Linked DNA regions of Homo sapiens: region 1 is linked to region 2. Evidence: fine-mapped expression QTL. A gene starts in region 2. The other region holds a variant in brackets. All regions are shown on one strand. Distances are from middle to middle.

Region 1 (4,386 bases), 780 kb before region 2:
TTTATTTTTATTTTTATTTTTTGAGATGGAGTCTCACTCTGTCACCCAGGTTGGAGTGCAGTGGCATGAACTTGGCTCATTGCAACCTCCACCCCCTGGGTTCAAGTGATTCTCCTGCCTCAGCCTCCCAAGTAGCTGGGACTACAGGTGCCCGCCATCACGCTTGGCTAATTTTTGTTTTTTAGTAGAGATGGGGTTTTGCCCTATTGGTCAGGCTGGTCTCAAACTCCTACCTCAGGTGATCCATCCACCTAGGCCTCCCAAAGTGCTGGGATTACAGGCATGAGTCACTGCATCCAGCCTCATAAAGTTTTTAATAAAAATACTGATTTTTTAAAGAAGTTTTGTACATCAATAGGCATCCCTAGATGAGACTAATTTGGGAGCCCTTATTTTCAAATTCATTTCAGTACAGTGTTGTTTATTTGTAACGTTCCACTGTAAGTTATCTTTAGTAATATTTTGCCATTTCTGTAAAACTTTGCTGCTTCCAGGGTATAATACTTACGCATGTTTAAGCTGGAAGGAACTCAGTTCTTCAGAAGTTAAAGATCTTGGCAGGTGTGGTGGCTCATTCCTGTAATCCCAGCACTTTGGGAGGCTGAGGTGGGTAAATAACTTGAAGCCAGGAGTTCAAGACCAGCCTGGCCAACATGGCAAAATCCACGTCTCCTCTAAAAATACAAAAATTAGCCTGGTGTTGTTTCACACTCCTGTAATCCCATCTACTTGGGAGGCTGAGGCACGATAATCTGTTGAACCCAGGAGGTGAAGATTGCAGTGAGCCAAGATCATGCCACTGCACTCCAGCCTGGTTGATGAAGTGAGACTCTGTCTCAAAAAACAAAACAAAACAAAACAAAACAACAACAACAACAACAAAAACCGAGAAAAAGAAATTAAGGATCTCATTTTTACCTCAAATATTGGCCTTGCTCTCAGGTTCCCTTGATCAACTCAGACAATTTTTTTTCTACATAATGGCACATGAAAAATGAAACAAAGGGGTAGTACACAAAAGTCCATGAGAATTTCCAAAAGCCAAATTTTACATCCCCTGCAACATTGCCATTTACTACCAGTTTCTTTCTGACCCAGTCAGATGTAGGAGGCCTCTAACTGGATCCAAGATGATTAATTCCAGATCCAATCTGATCCTGAACCAAGTCCAGTTTCCATCACAACTTCCAAATCCAGATTAAATCAGAGACTTGCTCAAAGAAACTCAGTTCAAAACAAATCCGTGGAGCTTCAGCATCTGAGGGAGACCTTACCATGATCCTCAACTACTCTGAGAGAGAAACGAACACAATGGGTCCAGCAGATACCTTGCTTGGTCACTCAGCACTCCTGGGGGTCTCGTTAGAGGCTCTAGTTCAGATCCCACTTCTGACACCATCTGATGAAAGAAAAACTTCAGCCAAATTAAATTTAAAGACATTTAATTGAACAATAAACAATTTGTGAATTAGGCAGTCTCCTGACCCAGAGTAGGCCCAGACTCCAGCACAGCCATATGGTGAAAAAGATTTATTGACAGAAAAAGGAAAGTGATGTACAGAAAATGGAAGTGAGGAACAGAAAATGGAAGTGAGGAACAGAAACAGCTGGATTGGTTATAGCTCAGTGTTTGCCTTATTTGAACATGGTTTGAACAGTTGGCTACATTTGATTGGCAGAAACTCTGGGATTGACACAAGGTAGGGTACAGTCTGTTTACACCTCCACTTGCAGCAGTTCATGATGTACAGTAAAACCCTTAGGCCAAACTTAAAATATGTGAGGAGACAGCTTTAGGCTAAACTTGATTTAACAGTAGTGAACTATCACTTCCACGTGACACATATAAGAATAGAGCTATCACAGGCATGCAGAATACAAATGGCAGGTCCAAAAGATATTTAATTGCCATGTTTTTTAAAAAAATTCTTCTCTTACTTTAGATAATTAAAAGTTACAAGAGCCAACAAAAGGTGAAGGCCTTTTCAAAAGAGAAAGACCTGAATTTTTGAGATACTAATCTGAAGAATTTCAAAGAGACAGATTATAGAATTTAAAAATTAAAAACCTCTTGCATTAAGTATAAGTTAATATTTTAATAAAATCTTGTTTTAACCAATTATTTAATTTTGTATTAGCATATTTTTAAATACCAAAGTTCAATTTTAAAAAACTATTATAATTTTCTGTAATTAAAACCAATTAATCACATAATACTTTTATAAGTTCCCTTTTTACTAACCTTATTACAACTTAGACCATTCACAACATACTTGGACCTTCTGGTTTGTCCTAAATATTTCACTTTCTTAAACAACCCAGTCATTTTATTTTAGAACAAAAATTCACTAGGCAAGATTCTTTCTCATATAAAATTACTTTCCTGTTTGCCTTAAATACAAAAAATGCCTCTTTATATTGATAATTTTCTTTACATCTCTTATTTCCTGCTTCCTTTTA[C/T]CTTGTTTTACACATAACCTTTAAATAAGCTTTGAATTAAATAAACATATTGAACTTTTTTTTTTTTATTTTTTTATTATACTCTAAGTTTTAGGGTACATGTGCACATTGTGCAGGTTAGTTACATATGTATACATGTGCCATGCTGGTGCGCTGCACCCACTAATGTGTCATCTAGCATTAGGTATATCTCCCAATGCTATCCCTCCCCCCTCCCCCGACCCCACCACAGTCCCCAGAGTGTGATATTCCCCTTCCTGTGTCCATGTGATCTCATTGTTCAATTCCCACCTATGAGTGAGAATATGCGGTGTTTGGTTTTTTGTTCTTGTGATAGTTTACTGAGAATGATGGTTTCCATTTTCATCCATGTCCCTACAAAGGATATGAACTCATCATTTTTTATGGCTGCATAGTATTCCATGGTGTATATGTGCCACATTTGCTTAATCCAGTCTATCATTGTTGGACATTTGGGTTGGTTCCAAGTCTTTGCTATTGTGAATAGTGCCGCAATAAACATACGTGTGCATGTGTCTTTATAGCAGCATGATTTATACTCATTTGGGTATATACCCAGTAATGGGATGGCTGGGTCAAATGGTATTTCTAGTTCTAGATCCCTGAGGAATCACCACACTGACTTCCACAATGGATGAACTAGTTTACAGTCCCACCAACAGTGTAAAAGTGTTCCTATTTCTCCGCATCCTCTCCAGCACCTGTTGTTTCCTGACTTTTTAATGATTGCCATTCTAACTGGTGTGAGATGATATCTCATAGTGGTTTTGATTTGCATTTCTCTGATGGCCAGTGATGATGAGCATTTCTTCATGTGTTTTTTGGCTGCATAAATGTCTTCTTTTGAGAAGTGTCTGTTCATGTCCTTCGCCCACTTTTTGATGGGGTTGTTTGTTTTTTTCTTGTAAATTTGTTTGAGTTCATTGTAGATTCTGGATATTAGCCCTTTGTCAGATGAGTAGGTTGCAAAAATTTTCTCCCATGTTGTAGGTTGCCTGTTCACTCTGATGGTAGTTTCTTTTGCTGTGCAGAAGCTCTTTAGTTTAATTAGATCCCATTTGTCAATTTTGTCTTTTGTTGCCATTGCTTTTGGTGTTTTGGACATGAAGTCCTTGCCCACGCCTATGTCCTGAATGGTAATGCCTAGGTTTTCTTCTAGGGTTTTTATGGTTTTAGGTTTAACGTTTAAATCTTTAATCCATCTTGAATTGATTTTTGTATAAGGTGTAAGGAAGGGATCCAGTTTCAGCTTTCTACATATGGCTAGCCAGTTTTCCCAGCACCATTTATTAAATAGGGAATCCTTTCCCCATTGCTTGTTTTTCTCAGGTTTGTCAAAGATCAGATAGTTGTAGATATGCGGCATTATTTCTGAGGGCTCTGTTCTGTTCCATTGATCTATATCTCTGTTTTGGTACCAGTACCATGCTGTTTTGGTTACTGTAGCCTTGTAGTATAGTTTGAAGTCAGGTAGTGTGATGCCTCCAGCTTTGTTCTTTTGGCTTAGGATTGACTTGGCAATGCGGGCTCTTTTTTGGTTCCATATGAACTTTAAAGTAGTTTTTTCCAATTCTGTGAAGAAAGTCATTGGTAGCTTGATGGGGATGGCATTGAATCTGTAAATTACCTTGGGCAGTATGGCCATTTTCACGATATTGATTCTTCCTACCCATGAGCATGGAATGTTCTTCCATTTGTTTGTGTCCTCTTTTATTTCCTTGAGCAGTGGTTTGTAGTTCTCCTTGAAGAGGTCCTTCACATCCCTTGTAAGTTGGATTCCTAGGTATTTTATTCTCTTTGAAGCAATTGTGAATGGGAGTTCACCCATGATTTGGCTCTCTGTTTGTCTGTTGTTCGTGTATAAGAATGCTTGTGATTTTTGTACATTGATTTTGTATCCTGAGA
Region 2 (4,386 bases):
GAAACAAAGGAGGGGTGTTTACAAGAGATGGTTTGCAATGCAGACTAAAGCCAAGAAAAATTTGAGTGTGATGGAATAGGAAAACCAAACCAACAGCCCCCAACCCCACCACACAATCTGCTTGGCCAAGTCCAAGTTTGTAGCTCCCTACACAAGAGTGTGAGACTGGCAGGTATCTCTTCCTGTTGTCTGTGCCTCCACTGAGCTGCCAAGTACTAGATTCTAGGGTTTGCATGAGCAGTTTTGTGTTTGCATAGGCATTTCTCAAAGCCACTGCATGGCAGGTATTTGAAGAGGAGCCAGGCAGGTCACACTAGAAAGAAGCAGCTGAGAGGGCATATGGGGCACTGTATAGAAAAAGATCTTGTGTGAAGTGTGGGCCCAGGGACTACACTCTGTTAAAACAGCAAAACTATGTGCAGTAAATGGAATCCCGCAGGCCTGGCTGCTTTTCTTCCCAGACAGCTCTGCCCGCAGAGCGGGCAGCGTCAGGAATTCGTTGTTATGCTTTCTTCCCTCACTGACCTTTGCTGGGTGGTTGAGCTGTGCTGGGATGTTTGAAGCATTTTTTTTTTTTTTTTTTTTTTTTTTTTTTGGCTGTTGGACAGAAAAGCAAGAACAGGTGCGTGCCTTTCTGTAAGGGAGCGGCGGCCGCCAGAGGGCGCAGAGGTGCCTTTTGACCGAATGGCGCGGGAAGGGGGGCGTAAAATTCAATTCACAGCGACCAAGATCTAGTCTCGGGAATTAAAGGATCAGAGCGCGCCTGAGCCTTTCGCTGCGGGGATGGGAGGCACTGAAGATTTGGGGGATAAAGAAGAAACGGAGGGACTGTCCTGTCTTCCTTCCCGCAGCCGCCCCTCCTCCCCAGTCAGCATCAGGCCCGTACGCCGCTCATTTCAGGGGCTAAGCTGGGAGCAGCACGCACGTTGCCTCAGTTTCCTGCTCAGCTCCCGGGACTACCTTGTGCCAACCTTCCCTGCTCGGAGTATGAGGCACAGGCCGGGGTAATCCTCCAGCCTGGGCTGGGGTCTGCTGAACTCGCGGAGCGCTTTTTCCTGCCCGCGGGTGAAGATTCCCCGCTGGCGCGTCCCGGGGCGCCCTGGGCTCCCGCGCGACCTCTGCCGTCGCCCTCGCTGCCGCGCTCCGGTGGCCGCGCAGCCCCCGCCTCCAGGAAAGCCACAGATTCCCGCTGTGCCAGGGAGCCCGCGCGGCCGGCGCTCCGGCCTCTCCCTGCAGCTGGAAAACGCTGCTCCCCTCTTCCTCCTTCAGGAAGACCGCCCTGATTGGGCCGGGGATGCGGCACCCCCAAGTTTGGAGCCAGAGCCCAGGAGCGTTTACATGTCAGGTGTTACGGGTGGTTCTGACTTCGGATAGTCCCCAAATTTCCCACCCTTCCTGGTCACCCTTCCTATCCCACCCCGGCGGAAGGGAAGGTTACGGCTCAGGATAGTTCTGGAGCCTCCTCTTCCCCCTCTACTCGTACCTGGCTGGCTCGTGGGGCATCAGAGCTTACCTCACCCCTCCCTGCGTCCAGACCTGGAGGAGGCCGCAGGGTCCCGCCGTCCGCGCGCTGGGGGCGCCCCCGGGCGGCGGACCCCGCGCGCCCCGCCCGGGAGGACGGCGACCTCTCCGCCCCCTCGAATGCCCCGCCCCGCTGTCGCCGTCGGTCCCCACCCCGCCACCGGCACACAGGCGCGCAGACTTGGGCTGGAGCCGCCCTGGGTGTCAGCGGCTCGGCTCCCGCGCACGCTCCGGCCGTCGCGCAGCCTCGGCACCTGCAGGTCCGTGCGTCCCGCGGCTGGCGCCCCTGACTCCGTCCCGGCCAGGGAGGGCCATGATTTCCCTCCCGGGGCCCCTGGTGACCAACTTGCTGCGGTTTTTGTTCCTGGGGCTGAGTGCCCTCGGTGAGTGAAACCCGGACCTGGAGGGGACTTGGGATGCGGGATGGGGTGAGTTCGACCCTGAGGGAGAACTTTGGCCACTGCTGCGGAACTGGGTCCCACGACTCGCCCTCCTCCCCTGACCTCCTAATCCCACTCCAGGGCATCACTGGCTGGCGCTGACTTCTCGCTTTGTCGGGGACAGCCCCCAGTTTGGGTGTGGGGGCGGATGGCGGGGGGAGGTAAGGGCATCTCTCGGAAGACCTGGATACCTCTGGGGTGAGTTATCGGAACCATTCCTCACCCTGTCCACTCCCCACCCCCCACCCAGCAGAGCCGGATGAGCTGAGCCGCTAGATGAGACACTGGCTAAAGAGCTTAAGGACTTAACTCTAGCCCCCTCTCATCCCCGACCCCACATACAAGCTGATGAGGAAGATCCCCCGGGGAAATACCCCTGGTCCCCAGGCTTGACACACGCACTTCGTGTCAATTCCCCAGCGCAGATGCTCTCTCTTGCCCCCTCCTGCTTCCTGCCCTGGGAATCAAGGGAGGTGCCCCAAAAGGACGACCGTGAGGTCATTTGGGACACAGGAAATGGGGGAGGGGTTCAAACGCACAGAGAAACAGAATTGTGACCACCCCACCCCCCCAAGGCCCACCACCCTTATTGGTTTCCAGAGCCAAAGGGAAGAGGGGAAATTGGGAGGAGGGTGGCCAAGGGTCAGAGAGGAAGGGAACCTCCTTGGAGCAAGTGTTTGGGAAGTGTTGTAGGCCTCCAGGGGCGCTGGCTTCAGCTGAAGCTGGGGTGGCTCAGAACTCCATCTGGGAGAGGACCCGGCAGGACTAGGCCCTTTTAAACTATTTCACTTGCTGTCCCTCAGCTTTCTTGCCATCTCCCTTCAAGGATCTCGAATGGGAGTGAAGGGTGGGTTTAGCTATATTGACTTTAACTCATTTCTCAGGTTGGAGGATGTCAGGACAAGTAAGGCCTGGGAAGCTGTAGAGTGAAATTCTACAATGATGGGGACAGAGATGAGGATCACCAGTGTCCCCTTTAGCATGTTCTGTGCCCCACAGGTGTCGGGGCATGCAATATTATAGTCCTTGGACAAAATGAGTCTCAAGTACAGCCCCCCAGGCCACACCAAGGCCACAAGTAGCCTTCTGTCCCTCTGGGCTTGGTGGGCCTGCTCCAGGATCCCTCAGACTTCTCATCCCGCCTTTCCCAACTTCAACTTCAGCTCTGTTCCTTCTGCATTCCACCCCAACTCTATCCCCCTTCCTTGTGGGGGGTGGGGGCTGGGGGAATCTCTGAAGCCAGGGAGGACAGTTCAAGTTGACTGCCTGAGTGTCCCAGGCTTCACCTGCTGCTCATCTGCAACCCTTTGTCCTACCCCAGCTTTGAGCCTCAGTTTGTCAGACTGAAGACCTGGACTCAAAAGTTCCAATCGGTCCCCCTGGGGGGTTGCCCAGTTCCCGCCAGCCACTCGAGGGTTAAATGGCACTGGTGACCCCGGTGCAACGTGCAGGCGCCCGGCTCCGCTCTTCTGGGCTCTGGAGGAGGCTCTCCGGCTCAGTAGGCTCCTCGGCGGCTCAGTGCTGCTGCCCCTGGGGCGTGAGAAGCCCGCGGGGGGAGTTTCTCAGAGAAAGAGGGAGACTAAAAATAGCCCCGGGGAGCGGGCCCATTTCGCTCTCCTTCGGCCCCTGCCGGCTCCCTCACTCTGGCCTCGGAGAGGGCTGTGGGCCGGAAGGGTCCCTTTCTTGGGCTGTCCCAGTGTCCTTCGATCAGACCCAACCAGACTCCTTTTCTCTCCCAGTGGCTCCGTGGACCCTGGGACCGAAAAAAACGGACCAGTTGGTGACTTCCGAGCCAGCAGACACCCAGGAGGGAGAGCAGAAAAGCCTCAGGCCCTCTTCTGTTCCTAGTTTCTGACAGGGCGAAGGGCAAGGAGCATGTGCCCAGACCCCAGTGTGTCCGTTACTATCTCTTTTAACTCTCCTCTACCTTCTGGAAAGTGGAATTATAAATGTGGGACCTGGGGAGGTCGCTGGTGGTCCACAAGGTGAAGGAAGGGCGCGCCCCTTCTGGGCCCCAGGCAGTTTCCCGGCGGAAACCCTTTCTGGCCGCCGGGTGTGTGTCGTAGAAAGGCTGGGGGAGAGCCGGCAGCACCTGCAGGCTCCAGGCGTGCCCGGCCTCAGCGGAATGGCCAGCGGGCCGGGTCCCCAGGGGGCGTCCAGCTCCTTGAGGCGGGGATTGTTTCCTCCCGTAGAGCCTCCGGTCTAGTGGCCCCCCCTTCATTGTCTTCTGCCTTATCACTGGGTACAAATTTCCTGCCCAGACCACAGAGATCCTCCAGGAAATGGGAAGGGGGATGCTGCGAAGGCCAAGTAACAGAGGTGGGGGTTCTGTACGGCGCAGCCGGGAAGCGGTGGGGGAGGCTTGCATCCTGGCCGGATCGGCTCCCAGCCCTTAGAGGCCTTCAGCCTGGCTCTCCTAGGGCGA

Alleles and levels. Positions count from the first base shown, and alleles are read on the strand shown. Sizes are in standard deviations (SD) of each study's normalised expression.
With allele C in place of T in region 1, the expression in breast of the gene that starts at base 1,699 in region 2 is lower (small effect, 0.14 SD a copy in GTEx).

What was found. PIP is the estimated chance that this variant, and not a neighbour inherited with it, causes the effect.
Region 1: its variant is the best candidate, but not a certain one, in a credible set for the expression of ESAM in breast (GTEx, PIP 0.78).

What each region holds. Positions count from the first base shown.
Region 1 is chr11:125,540,777-125,545,162 of GRCh38, reverse strand. No RefSeq gene overlaps it. Among named protein-coding and RNA genes, the nearest start is that of EI24, 27 kb to the left of the region's middle. The variant C/T (reference allele first, on the strand shown) is at 2,461.
Region 2 is chr11:124,759,603-124,763,988 of GRCh38, reverse strand. ESAM (endothelial cell adhesion molecule) reads left to right here and starts at 1,699. Exons shown (of 7, transcript NM_138961.3): 1 at 1,699-1,904. The coding sequence starts at 1,835. All of the region lies in intron 1 of ESAM-AS1 (ESAM antisense RNA 1), which reads right to left. RefSeq lists silencers at 911-960, 1,501-1,910 and enhancers at 1,641-2,144, 4,039-4,108.